Linked DNA regions of Homo sapiens. The protein of the gene in region 1 interacts with the protein of each later gene in a biochemical or structural test. Each region holds a gene or a part of one and is shown on either strand. Other genes may lie near its edges.

What was found. Proteins that work in one complex are often made in the same cells at the same time.
Region 2: of the proteins of SNCAIP (region 1) and RNF19A, one has a biochemical effect on the other in vitro, tested with the Homo sapiens proteins (one study listed by BioGRID).

What each region holds. Positions count from the first base shown.
Region 1 is NC_000005.10:122,455,237-122,462,236, reverse strand, and holds part of SNCAIP (synphilin-1), read right to left. Parts: exon of another isoform or gene 5,756-7,000; coding exon of another isoform or gene 5,702-5,755; exon of another isoform or gene 2,903-5,701; intron 1-2,902. UniProt on the Homo sapiens protein: Isoform 2 inhibits the ubiquitin ligase activity of SIAH1 and inhibits proteasomal degradation of target proteins. Isoform 2 inhibits autoubiquitination and proteasomal degradation of SIAH1, and thereby increases cellular levels of SIAH.
Region 2 is NC_000008.11:100,306,931-100,314,507, reverse strand, and holds the start of RNF19A (E3 ubiquitin-protein ligase RNF19A), read left to right. Parts: upstream 1-4,554; 5' UTR 4,555-4,641; exon of another isoform or gene 4,642-5,210; intron 5,211-7,577. UniProt on the Homo sapiens protein: E3 ubiquitin-protein ligase which accepts ubiquitin from E2 ubiquitin-conjugating enzymes UBE2L3 and UBE2L6 in the form of a thioester and then directly transfers the ubiquitin to targeted substrates, such as SNCAIP or CASR.

The DNA of each region.
Region 1 (7,000 bases):
GTCAGGGAATCCAACTAACTGATTTGCACTACCAGATGCAGGAATTAGAAGCACCGTGTACTTCTGAAGATGATAGCAACTATGTTAAAGAATGAAGAAGCTCTCTATATACTAACACATAAAGTCCTCCAACGTGTCAGATAAAAAAAAGCAAGAAACAAAACTGTGTGTACAGTGCGACACCTTTATTGTAAAAAGGAAGATAAAGATACGCATTTGTATTTGACTGCAAAAATTTAAATAAGATTTGCACATAAAACTCTATAAAAGCCGGGCATGGTGGCTCATGCCTGTAATCCCAACATTTTGGGAGGCTGAGGCAGGTAGATCAGTTGAGGTCAGGAGTTCGAGACCAGCTTGGCCAACATGGCGAAACCCTGTCTCTACCAAAAATACAAAAATTAGCCAGGTGTGGTGGCTGTAGTCCCAGTTATGGAGGCTGAGGCATAAGAATCACTTGAACCCAGGAGGCAGAGGTTGCAGTGAGCCAAGATCACACCATTGCATTCCAGCCTGGGTGACAGAGCAAGACTCTGTCTCAAAAAGAAAAAGAAAAAAAAAAAAAAACAGCTATAAAAAAGGAACAAAGAGAAGACCAGTAAAGTGATGTTGGAAATTAATATTATTATAACAGAAATAAAAAATTCAATAGCAAGATTGAAAGGCAAGTTTCAGTAGATATATTAGAGATTCAAACTAGAAAAAGTCAAAGTATGGAAAAATAGAGAAGAATCATTAGAAAATCTGAGGATCAGTCCAGTGTGTCTAACATTAGAATAAGAGGATTTTCAAAAGAGGGAACAGAGAAATTGGAGAAGAGAAAATTTTCAAAGAAATTGTACAAAACATTTCCCAGAACTGAAGTACTGAGGGTTCCAGATTGAAAAAGCTTGCTGAGTGCCCACAGCCCAGGAATGAAAACAGACCCACATCATGGCAAAGCATCAAAAAATCAAAATATTGGAGATAAAGAAGAAATCATAAAATCTTCCAAGCCATTGGCAGAGAAGAATAGGGCTTCTCAACAGACACATTAGAAGCAAAAGAAAATGAAATGATGTGTTCAAGATTCTGAAAGAGAATAATTTCCCACCTAGAATCCTATACTGAGTCAAACACTCAATCTGGTAAATTGAAGATATTTTCAGACTGTCAGGGTCTCAAAAAAATTAGCAACTGTTTACCTTCCTTGGGTGGGAAGATATATGACTGAAGCATGAGAATAAACAAAATAGAAAGGAAAAGACAGGTTCAGGAAACAGAGTCTAAACAGGAGAGAAGCACAAGGAATTCCCAGGATGATGTGCATGAGAGACTCCAGGATGATAGCTGTGTGGCAGTGCCAGGAGGCAGCAGTGAAGATGGGGGCAGGAGGAGGGGTCTCCATGAACAGAGAGTAACTGACAAACACCTGAGCTGTCTGAGGGTGCTAAAAGATGGTTTGGTCTTCAGCAGAGTGTTTAGAAACGCATTGTAAATTAAGAAACCAAAATTATTTCCATGGCAAACATAAAATTGTATGAGAAAGAAAATATAACATAGGACAACATAATGAGTCCTTGTGATTAATATTTAAATAACCATAATGATAATTAACACTGAATACTGATTTAGCTCTTGAGAGTGATACAACTATATTCATGGGGGTGGGAGGAAGAGGAAGCAGGAATGTGTGCATGTGTGTAGGTGCGTGTGTGAGAGATAGGAAAGAGAGGGAAAGAGAGAGACAGAACAAGAGAGAACAGGTGCAGTGTTGGATTGTTGGATGCTAAAATGGAGCTAGACACATTTGGATCATTGTTAAAAATACGGATTTAGGAGCCAGACTGAGTTCAAATCCTGGCTCCACAATTTATTGCCATCATTACTATGTAATCTTGGGCAAGATATGTAATCATTCTATGTCTCAGTTTCCAATACGCAAAATTAGGATAATAATAGTATCTGCTTGGCTGGGTGGGGTGGCACATGCTGGTAGTTCTAGCTGCTCAGGAGGCTGAAGTGGGAGGATCTCTTGAGCCCAGAAGTTAGAGGATGCTGTGAGCCAAGATCACACGACTGCACTGCAGCCTAGGTGACTGAGCAAGACCCTGTTTCTTAAAAAAAAAAAAAAGTATCTGCCACATAGTGTCATTGAGAAGATTAAAATAGTACATATGTGTAAAGCACCTGAAATATTCTCTGGGATACTGTACGTGCTTTATAAGTGTTTATAAGTGCTATCATTTTGATTTTCTATAGTAGAATGCCAGTAGATAACAGGGATACTATTTGAAACTGAAAATCTGTATGAGCATGTTACTTAGAAATAGAGAATACTAGAGAAAACACCTGAAGGAAAAGTGAATGGTCGATTCAAAAGAGTGAGGCTAGGGAAGGGGGTGGGTTTGGCACAGGGCACATCCAGTCTTTATTATAATGCTAGTATTACTCTTATAAGTATCTATATCACTTTAACAATAAATTAAAATAGAACACTTAAAAGAAGGTTTTGGTCATAGTCTAAAGATAATAAAGTTTAGACTTTGATGGGCATTTCTGCTTTAATATAAGAGGTGCTGTGGTCAAAAACACTAAAATGAGCACTCTTTCTGCAGGACAAAACCCCTTATGATTAGAGCTAAGTCTGTACCAAGTAAAATATTAACTTGAGGCATTTATCTGAAAAATATCAGGATAATTCAATCCTCCCTGAACCCTTCAATTACCTAGTCCCAAATTAACAGTATTCAAAGAACGAAAGTGTTTGGGTAATTCTGGCATGAATTATTCAGATAATTTGCTACTCCTCTATTTCATTTTTGGATATGAAATCACATTCTGAGTGACCAAAATTGGAAAGAAAAAAAGCTTAAATTTAAATAACAGTTTTTCAAGTGTTCTAACTTGCTGACTCTTCTAGGCATGGATTGCAGATTTCCACAGTCCATGGTGACCAGACTGCAACTTACAGCATCCATGTAGAATGGTCCACGGCACGCACGACATTTCCGCTGATAACCAAAACAGGGAAACCTTGCTATTTTCTGTGATCTCCCTCAGAGTTTTGACTGAGAGCACATCTATAAGTCTCATCTACTAAGAAATGGATTTTGGTTCAAGGCATGAAAACTTGTATTTGAAGTGCCCAAATGGAAACTCACTGTGGGTAGGTGGACTTGTGACCAGAAGGCCAATATTGATAAAGAACACACCATTTTTCCCCGCTGTGGGAAGACAGGCTCAGTCCTTTTTTTATTCATATTTTTCTCTCTTCTTCCACTTTTCCTCTCTCTAGCTTCACCTCTCTCCAAATATCTATGAAGTCTCTATCATGCACCAGGCACCAAGCAAGACACTGGGAGTACACGTGGAGTACAAAGGTGCTATTGGGGATTACTATTTTCATGAAGCTCTTAGGCCTTTTTCACAGAGCTTGCCATGTTTTACTTGAATCCTATTTTCATTCTCTCTTGATTATGATCTCCCTGAGTGAAGGAATCAGGCCTTATCCTGGCAGAGCAAAATGTGTGGCTTAGAGCTGAAAATATTTGCAGAGTGGCCCGGCCATCCAGGGATGTGGCATTAGGAAGATTGTCCATCCGCGCTGTCCTCAGCGTGGGAACGAAGAGCACCAGTGACTGGCCGGGGGAAGGATACTTGATGAAGGCACTGGAAAGTGGCTGTGTAAAGTCTCTATTTGGTATTTTTAAACTCAACTAACCTATTGCTTCTTTGAAACTCCAGCCTTAAGAGATACAGGCAGGCTCTGTTCTTTTAAAGTACAAAGATGCCTCTAGTGGTGGCAGACGTGTGGTGCAAATATGACATTAATAGAACATGTATGTGCTTTGAGGTCACACAATTCAAAACTGGATCTCTGGGGAATAAGGAAAGGAGGGTGGGGGTGGAGAAGTGAGTTGTCCTTAGGTTTTCTGACTATCCTTAAATCAGGAGCGGCTTGTTGAAAGCAAATGGTCTGGTGGGAAGATTTTGGTGTCCAAGGCAGTTCTCTTCCTGTTGTCTTCCTACTGTTGGTTCATGGGTGTTCACAAACTCCACACATTCATTTCCTGCCTCCCTGGAATAGTGATTTAAGAGAGTACGAGGGTCTTCCCTGCCTTTTTTATGTCTCAACATATCATACTTTGACACTAACTAAACTGTTTCACTGTCTTCTTGTGGTGCAATCTGCTTTCTCCTTTTCCCAGTGTAAGGAGCTTATGAAAAGACACCCCATTTGTGCATCCATCTTGGGAACTCTGCCAGCCTCTATAAAGACTTTGCTAAATTGTGCTTAGACACTGGGAAGATGTGATCATTCTGGCTTCTCATAACATGGACATTTTTTCTTTATACACAAGACTCTGCCTTATTGGCAACAATTCCCTGTAATTCTACTGTGCAATGGTCAATAGAAACCCCAAAACCTGGCACATTTGAAAGAAGGAACTGTCGCTTAATTCATGTGAAGAAATAGTTCAAGTTTAGAGCCTCCTCTTCTTCTCCAAGTCATGGTATAAAATGAGGGTTTTCTTTCTGAAAATACTTTGAAACTACAGGCGAGGCTGAGGTGGGTGTGGGCAGGACAGAGAACACAGAACACCTAAGGAAGCATGAGGAGGCAGGAAAGAGAGAGAGAGTGAGAGAGAGAGAAAGAGTTGGCGGGGTTGGGTGGGGACACAGACAGAACACTTGGGGAAGCATTGGTGGGGAGGAACCACGGAGCACCTGGGGGTACACTGTGGGAGAGCACAGAGTACCTGGGGAAGCATGGGAGCTGGGAGGGTCAGTGCTGCTCTAAGGGTTTCTGGAGCAGAGGCAATCACCCAACTTCAGGCACCTGGCTGTTGTCTTTCAACTTTTGCTCATTGGGCATGCAGCCTGATGCCAGCAGGTTAGAAAGGCAAACAGAAAATTATACTTCCGTTCAGGGCTTAGAACATGAAACTACAGGCTGGTTGCAGTGGCTCACACTTGTAATCCCAACACTTTGGGAGGCTGAGGCAGGTGGATCATCTGAGGTCAGGAGTTCAAAACCAGCCTGGCCAACAGGGTGAAACCTCGTCTCTACTAAAAAGACAAAAATTAGCTGGGTGGTAGTGGCATACGCCTGTAATCCTAGCTACTCAGGAGGCTGAGGCAGGAAAATTGCCTGAGCCTGGGAGGTGGAGGTTGCAGTGAGCCAAGATCGCACCACTGCACTCCAGCCTGGGTGACAGAGTAAAACCCTTTCTCAAAAACAAAACAAAACAAAACAAAAATAAAAAACATGAAACTACAGTTTCTGAGCAAAAACTCAAATGTCTATAGTGTTAAGCACCAACTACTTTACTAAATACTTTTTCATTAACAGCTTTAACAAACTTTTCTGAACTGTTGCATTGGTGAGATTTGTCTGTCTCTGGAAGGATGCACTCAACATATATTACATAGTTTGGTAACAACACCCACATGATTGAGTAGGTTTATCATTATCCTTTCAAGAATCAAGCATATGAGTTAAAAATAATGTTAACATTTTAAGGTCAAAAAATGAAAGCAAGATTAAAATATGGTTATTTGATAATATATAGAGAAATGATGGCAAGGAGACATTTGTTCAGCAGCACCAGGGTCTTGTTGCACTGGCTGCATTTTCCCATCAGGATTCTGGAAATGCTTTTTAGTGGGGCTGAGGATATGCTCTGGTTGGGAGCAGGTTTCAGCCAGGGCCTCACCTTTACTTCCCAATGTCTTCCACATCTTTGTTCCTTTTTCTGTTTAGTATGATGTCCTGGCAATAAGGACAGAAATGTGTGTTTGTGTGTGTTAGGGGTGGGGGAATGATACCCTAAACTCTGACTCTCTAATGGGCACAGCAGATGACCATTACTATAGTAGATGTCATCTCACTACTGGCGAAGCAGACCAGTCTCTTTGAAGTGGCTGCTGAACAACCTTAAGATCTATGCAAAATATTTGATACCAGCTCTTGGCTCTCAGTATGAAGTTCCCAGTGTGGCTAATACCTTGGCAGTAAAACCCACACTAATGGTGTTTATTGCTTTATGATTTTTAAGGACTCTATGCTAATGCTGGTGCTAGGATTAGGCGTTTCCTAACCCCTCAGGCAACTGTGCAACTGTGGTCAAAGTGGGTGTTACTGGTGGTGGCCAGGGGTTATGCCCTTTTGCCTATCAGTAACTGGAATCACTGCTCACTTTGTGCCCTAAAGATCTCAGATGGACTTAAACTCTGGGAAATGAATGTTTCACTGGCATTTTAAGACAAGTAATTGCAAACATTTCCTTGGAGTTACAATAACTTAAAAACAACTTGTCTTTTGTAAGATAAAGTAAAGATAAATCTGCTTGTTATAAACCAAGTGATCCTCTACAGTTGAATCACACTGGGGATGCTGCTCAAAGGAATAGAGTTGAATCTAATTTTAAAGGGCATTGAAAAGAAATTTAGATTTTTGCTATCAAGCTGTGAACAATTTAGAAAAATAAACAGCAAACAGAGCCCTCACAGAGCAGACATTCTTTAAAATGTTAAAAATGTTATATTTATTGTCCCTATTTTTCCTTTATCAGAAAAAAATAACAATTTCTTTTAACTAAAATGGAATTCCAATGTATTCCTGGAACCGGGATCCATCGCCTCACTCTTTTCCCCAGGGATATGCTGATAGGGCCATGTAGAGGCAATAACATTTGGCCCCAACTCCAACCCAATGACTGCCACTGACTTCCAAAGTCATACTACTCTGTGCATCCCTGCTACCTGAGAGGAGCCATTTGGTGGTCAAGCAAATTTTGGGGCCAAGATTTGGAGTCATAGCTGAGAGATGAACACTTTAGTTCCTTTCCTTCTTGCAGTGGGGTCCCATAGGCAAAATTAGGCAAGCCTAGGTATTTTTCAGGCCCACATTCCCACTCTAGTCTTAATTTATCAGAAGAATCTTTATTTCAGCCAGAGAGATCCATTCTTGCTTTATCTCAGGAGTGAACCGGCCTAGTTCTCTCTGTCTGTGTGT
Region 2 (7,577 bases), on another chromosome or scaffold:
CAGGGAAGGGGCCAGGGGTAGGTTTAAGAGAAGAGCATGAGCTCTGGAGCCAGCCTGCCGGATGGTCCAAATCCCAGCTCTGCCACTTAGCTACGTAACTTTCAGCAAATTACTTAAACTCTTGTGCCTCAGATCCTAATTTGGGAGCTTTAGGGATTCTTGATGATAAACTAAGTGGCTTAATACTTATAAAGCAATCAGAATAGTGCCTGTCATATAGTATATGTACTCAATAAAAAGTATATATAGTATGTGTACTCAATAAAGTGAACATATAGTGTACTATATATAGTATATATAGTATGTATGCAATAAAGAGTAGTTCTCGGCTGGGCACGTGGCTCATGCCTGCAATCCCAGCACTTTGTAAGGCTGAGCTGGGCAGATTACTTAAGCCCAGGAGTTCAAGACCCACCTGAGCGACATGGCAAAACCTCGTCTCTACAAAAAATACAAAAATTAGCCAGGCATGGTGGCATGTGCCTGAAGTCCCAGCTACTCATGAGGCTGAGGGGGGAAGATTGTTTAAGCCCAGGAGGTGGAGGTTGCAATGAGCCAATATTGAGCCACTGGGTGACAGAGTAAGACTCTGTCTCAAAAAAAAAGTAGTTCTCTTTCTCTTTACTTGCCACTTTTATTCCATTCCATGCAAGTATGACTGATTATACCTCTAAAACCAAAACCAAAACCAAAACCATCCACTTCTGTCTCCACAGTCTCCACCTTGGTTCAAAGAACTATGACATCTTTATTGGATTCCTGGAATAGCCTCTTAACTGGTCTCCCTACTTCCACTCTTGCTCTGCCTTAATCTGATCCACAGAACAGCCTGAGTGATCCTTTTCAAAGACAAATCAGATGTCACGCTGCTTAAACATCTATTGTCTCATCACACTTCATACCAATCATTTAGAATTCTCCTTACCATACCTAAAAAGGTATTAAATCATCCAGCTGCCTCCTACTTTTCTGACCACCCCCCGTCCCCTGGCCCACGTCATACTCCCCTCCCTTTTGCTATGTTCAGCCTCTAGCTGCCTTGAATTTGACAAGTGTTTCTGGCTAAGACCTTTGCGTCTGCTGTTCCTCCGTCTTCCCCACCTCCTAACTAGTTTGCCTTCTTCTTGTCTTATAGAATCCAGCTCAAATGTCAGAAGAATTGACGTTAGTTTGAGAGACCAAACTAAGTTACAGCCTCTTTGGTTTCTGTTACTCTGGTAAGTGTATTTCCTTTTCATTATTTTTCCTTCTTTATTCCTCATCCCCCAATGTAAGCACCATGCAAACGGATATGTAGGCTTTTTCATTGCTATAGTCTCAGTGCCTGTAATGGCAAACACCCCATCCCCAATATAGTAAGCATTCAAATGTTTATCGAATTGATGTTAAATGAATTAGAAGAGAGGAGGGAAACAAAAGAGAATACTGCCAAAAATTAAGGCACCTGGGGCCAATTAGGCTTTTGCAGTATTCCAGTGGGAAATGATGAGGCCCTGGCAGTGGTTTCCAACCTTGGTCATGCATTGCAATTACCTGGAAAGAGGTTATGTATTTATTTTTGTTGTTGTTGTTGTTTTGTTTTGTTTGAGACAGAGTCTCGCTCTATTGCCCAGGCTGGAGTGCAGTGGCACAATCTCAGCTCGCTGCAACCTCTGCCTCCCAGGTTCAAGCGACTCATGCCTCAGTCTCCTGAGGAGCTGGGATTACAGGAGTGTGCCACCATGCCCAGCCAATTTTTGTATTTTTTATAGAGATGAGGTTTCATCATGTTGTCCCGGCTGGTATCAAACTCCTGGCCTCAAGTGATCCACTCACCTAAGCCTCCCAAAGTGCCGGGATTACAGGCGTGAGCCACTGCGCCCGGTTTTCTTTCTTTCTTTCTCTCCCTCCCTCCTTCCCTTCTTTCATTCTTTCTTGAGACAGGGTCTCACTCTGTCGCCCAGGCTGGAGGCCAGTGGTGTGACCAGGGCTCACTGCTGCCTTGACCTCCTAAGGCTATGGAGATGATCCTCCTGCCTCAGCCCCCTGGAGTAGCTGGGACTGCAGACGTGGGCCACCATGCCAGGCTAATTTTTGTATTTTCGCCATCTTGCTCAGGCTGGTCTTGAACTCCTGGACTCAAGTGATCCAACCACCTCTGCTTCTCAAAGTGCTAGGACTACAGGTGTGTGCCACCGTGCCCAGCACACTTGGGGAGTTTTAAAAACTACTGATGCCTGAGCACCACCCTCAGTGATTCTGATTTAATTGTTGGGTGCAACGTGGACATAAGAATATGCAGCCAAATTTGAAAACACTGCTCTAAAAGCAGAGGGAGATATAGAACAGAGAGCACAGGGATATTTCCGGGGTATAATAAACAGGACTTGGTGGTTAGTTATGAATTGGAAGGGACAAAAAGAATGGGGCCTGGGAACAATCCTAGGTTTCTGGCTTGTGTCTGGGTGAATGAAAGAAGCATGCTTTGAGGAAAGAACAAACTACATCTTGGACAGCCTGAATCTGAGGTGCCTCTAGGAATTCAAGTTGGGGATGTTCAATAGGTATTTGTTTTTTAATAGATTTATTTGGCCTAGTGAAGAATAGAAAGTCCTTCTAATTTTTAGGAAGACAAGAAAGCCAGAAGCAGCATCTCTGGAAAATATTACCGTTGTACAGAGTGTAAGACCATTTTCATTCCGCACAGCTTCTTTATTCAAAATCCCCTTTCAAGCCAGTGCCCCATCTGTGCTGAAATGTTGTTTAACATGTTGATCTATTTTCTTTTCTTTTTTTTTTTTTTTTTTTTTTGAGACGGAGTCTCGCTCTGTCGCCCAGGCTGGAGTGCAGTGGCGAGATCTCTGCTCACTACAAGCTCCGCCGCCCGGGTTCACGCCATCCTCCTGCCTCAGCCTCCCGAGTAGCTGGGACTACAGGCGCCCGCCACCACGCCCAGCTAATTTTTTGTATTTTTAGTAGAGACGGGGTTTCACTATGTTAGCCAGGATGGTCTCGATCTCCTGACCTCGTGATCCGCCCGCCTCGGCCTCCCAAAGTGCTAGGATTACAGGCGTGAGCCACCAATTCCGGCCAACATATTGATATATTTTCAAGAAGGATATTATATATGGGTACTTAACTTACTATTCTTGTGCTATCTGTAGGCTTAAAGCATCCCATATGTAAAGTCGCTGGCAGCCTTCAAGTAGCATTTAAAGGTATAACAGCTTTAAAACTTCCCATAAATGAAAATAAACATACCCATAATTACTTCCTTTAAGATTCGAGGCCAAAGACACTTAAACCTAAACTGCCTAGCTTGTTCAATTTTCTAATTGGTAAACATTTACTGGGTTACCAAAGATACCAAGTACATTCGGAAAGACCATGGCTCCTTGGTTTGTTTCTAATTTAAATTACACAGACACACTAAACAAGGACTGGGAGAGTGATATATTTAGTTAAGTAACAGATGGCAAATGGACATTCTGTCCAGCCTCTATCACATTCGTTTCTCAGTATTCTATGTTAGAGTGATCTAAATCTTGAAGAGAATAAACCAGGAGGAAATGCACCAGGCCCAGACGGAATTTGTTTATTCAACTAAGAATACCAAGACTAGTGTAGATTGAAACATTCAAAGGGGATATGACTGGCTGAAAAGATATGAGACGAAGGAACAAATAAAGCTGGATTAAAGTAATTAGGAATGTATTAGAGATGAAATAGGAATTCTGATTACTTGACTGCAAAATAGTAAAAAAAAAATGAAATAAAAGAGATGAATGGAAGATACTCTCCAAACCCTCACGTAGGCTTGCTATTGTGGCTAAGTACTGTTCCTAACAGCCTCTGCAAAGACAGGTGCACTAAGAGGGCGGCTGCAGACGCACAGGGTGCTGCCGTCCTCTGGGAAAGGACATTTCCTCGCCGAGAGCTGCAACATCCCGGCACTTCTCTCCCTCGGCCTGCCAATCTAGCAGGTGAACCCTGAGAACACAAAGGAATGAATAATGCCGGGCAAACTGCCAAGAGCCAGAGTCGCCGAGTCTGGCAACTCCCTTCAACCGGGCGCAGCTCCAGCCACCCCGACCTGTCCTTGGAGGAGACGCTCTCTGGGCCACGGAGAACCGGCCAGGGAGACACCGGCCCCACTGCCCGGCGCGCTCGAGGCGAAGTCCCCTCCGCCAGGGACAGGCGTGGGGGCCGCAGTCGGGGCCACCCGGGTGCAGCGGGGCGGCTCCTGCGCGGGCGCGGAACGAACGTGCGCAAGGGAACAGCCGCGTCCAGAGCCGCCCGCAGCGGGCCCGGTGGGCGTGACGCCATGACGCACAGCACGCGGGCGGCGCGCTGGGGCGGGGCGGCCGGGGGCGGGAGGAAGAAGTGGGAGGAGGAGGAGGGGAAAGCGGGGGCTGCGGGAGGGGGAGGTGGTAGTTGCGGCGCTGGTTCCCGGGAGCAGCCGTCGAGCCACAACTGCGGAGGAGGAGTTCGGGAAAGCGGCCGTCGGGACTCCTCCCCTCCGTCGTCTCCGCCCCGGTTGAGAGGCGCCTCGGCGCATCGGAGGGACCCTCCCCCGCGCTTCCTCAGGCTGCTGTCGCCGCTGCTGGGAGATGGGCCTACTCGCCCGCCACCCTGCGCTGCCGCCGCTCTGAGGAGTTAAAGGTACGGGCGGGCACCCGGAGGAGCTTGCGCCCCGGAGCGGGAGAGAAGGGGCGGCTCTCGCTTACGACCCAGGGAGCTCTGGCCGGGCCGCAGCCCTAGCGCCCCTGCCCGGGACAGAAATGGATTCGGAAGTCCGGTGGGAAAGGCGTCTCCTCCAGTGTCCAGCGTGGGCTCGGGGCCGTGGCCGGCTTAGGGGGTCAGGCCTCGGTCAGCTCCGGGTCCCCTACCCGGCCCAGGCGCGGGCGTCTCCCGGGCCGCGGGGGCCGAGGTGGAGCGTGGGATCCGCCCCAAGCCCTGTCCTCCTGGTGCCTGTGCGGCCGGCGGCCGGCCCGGCGATATTATGACGGGCCGAGGCGGCGCTCCCCTCGAGCTGTCTCCTGCCCCTAAAGCGGGGGAGACCCAAGGGCGGTTGCCGCGGGGAGGCGGCGGGGGCGGAACGCATTCCTGACGGGTGAAATCGGCTCTAACGGGACCGATTTCCGGGCCTCGCTGCAAATTTGGAGCCGGGACATCGCCCCGCAAGCCGTGCTGCCTGGGGCCTTAGGGAGGGGAGCTGTGTTCGGAGGAAGGTTAGTCCGGGACTGCTACCACCTCCTTCAAAAGCAAAAATTACACATCACACCAAAATGGTGTAGCCTTGGGGTGAAGTATGTGTTAACGGGGGTCTTCCGGGATTGTCTCCCCGTGCTAAGCCTTTAGGGTGTTCCCAGCCCTCGCCCGGCAAGTAATACTACTACTTTGAATTTTCAGTTTTTCTTATCTGGGTTCCACTCTGCAGTTGCTCTTTTTTTCCCATTTCCATTAATGGGAAGAAGAAAAAGAAGTTTAGGGTTCATTAACCCCGCGACAAGGGCAGTAAATAAAAAGAGGGAAGAGAGTGGTTAAGGCTATATATGGGAGAGAGAAACGTTTAATTTTTTCCCATTGACCCTTGGAGATATAAATACACGAACGATGCTTTACTCTGCTTAATGTTTACTGTCCACAGTGTTGCAGAATGTTCTGTTGGGGTGACGTTAGAAAAGACGGCGTTTAAGTGCCGTTGCAATTTTCAAACCTAGATGTTGGCTAGAAATGCTAATTTTAAGTGTTAGTAAACAGTAGAGGCTTAAAGCAGCCCTTTCCTTTGATCGGTTGTCTTAAATTGTGATCTTTACATTCCACATTTTTTTTTTTTAAAGAACATGGTTCTTTTCATTTTTTTAAAATATCTTTTCTTATTTTAACCTAGATTCATTGAGTTTTGGTTGTTTGAAGTCTGACGGTTTGCCTTAAGTTTTATTTTCAGTTTTGCCATTACCCGTCTTAATACACATTTTACCACTTCTGTTTATAATGCAAGCCATTACCCTGTTTGCCTGTTTTTGCTTCTTTAACACTGACTGAACTATCTGAATTGAGTTAAAATGTAAATACTTCTCTATTTAGAAAATGGCGATGATCGTATTTTCAAATGTTCTTTCCTTGTTACAGTTTCATGGTAAAAATTTAGAATTAAGTCTTGGGACTTAATAAACCAAATTATGCTAAAAAAACACTTTTAAAATTTGTTAGTTTAATGCCCTGCTTAATGTTCTCTTTTTTTAAATTACTGTATAAAATTTAACTGAAGTTTAAATTTTACGTGTCCATGGAAAATATTTTAATGTCATCGCAAGGTGTCTTTGAGGAAAAAATTACAGTTGGCAACTAATGTTAGTGTATTTTTTTCACTATCTTAGCTTCCAGGAGATTCCAGTAAGATTAATTTTTAAAACTGCAGCATCATTTTAGGAGTTGAAGCACAACCCAATTCTTAGTACCAAATAGTGGCCACTGGAAATTTTGTTTTCTCATTTAGGGGATGCCTCAGTTGATCAGTAGACTTAATATAAAGAACTGTCCATACTGTCAACCAGACAGTGTTGGGATTTTTAAACAAATTTTGGTGATTTCTTGAGTTTTTGATGTATTTTGCTTGACTGAAACTTATTTTCTGCCTAACACACGAGAGGTGCTAAGATTCCTATTTTTAAAGATACTTCATTCAAGAAAATGGATGAATAAATAAAATACTTAGCATCTTGGTGGAAAGTAAATGCACTTCCCAAATTTGAATGTAAGTGAAGTCGTAAAGCAGTATGTTTGCAGTTGAGGATGTAAGACACTTGGGTCACCTCTATTTTATTGGGGTTGGATTGAAGGATACTATTTGTTATGGGGTTGTTTAGAATTAAATATGGGTAATTAAAAGCAAACTTTTTGTTTTAACTATTTGAAATAATCACTTGTATATTATGGAAGATTCTGACACCCCCTCCCCACCACGGTTTTTTTTTTGTTGCGGCAGTTTGTATCTTGAACACTTATTTAGATTTATATAGAAATTTTTTGGTTTCAGATTATTTCTCCCCCTTCTCCAACACATATAGTTTGTTGTTGTTGTCGTTTTTAATCTACAGGGCACAGATGGTTGAGATATGTAGTTTTCTGTAATTTCCAAGTAGGGAAAAGAAGGCAAAATATTTGTGATAACATGTAAAAGTCCCTAGTCAAGTGCTGGGCGCAGAGTAAGCTGGAGATAAATTTTGTTATATTAATATTTACATCTGAATTGCTCACTTATATCTTCTCTACTCGGGTTATATAGGAAATCTTAGGGAATTGTTATTCGTTTTTCTAATGTCATTAATAAGTGAAAACTGACTGTCAAATGCAGGCTGGTTTTGTACTGAACTAATAAGCTTATGATCTTTTAACATTCTTTGCCAAGATAAAAATTAGGCCACCTTGGGCAAAAGCCCAAAGTAAAGTTGAATTTCTAAATTTACATTTCATTGCATATTGCATTGTATTTGGCAAACTAGCACATCATAGCAAAATGGTAGTTGAATTTAGATTGTCTGAAAGGACCCATGATTATATATGGAGTAGTACTTCAGCTTAAAAGCTATTTA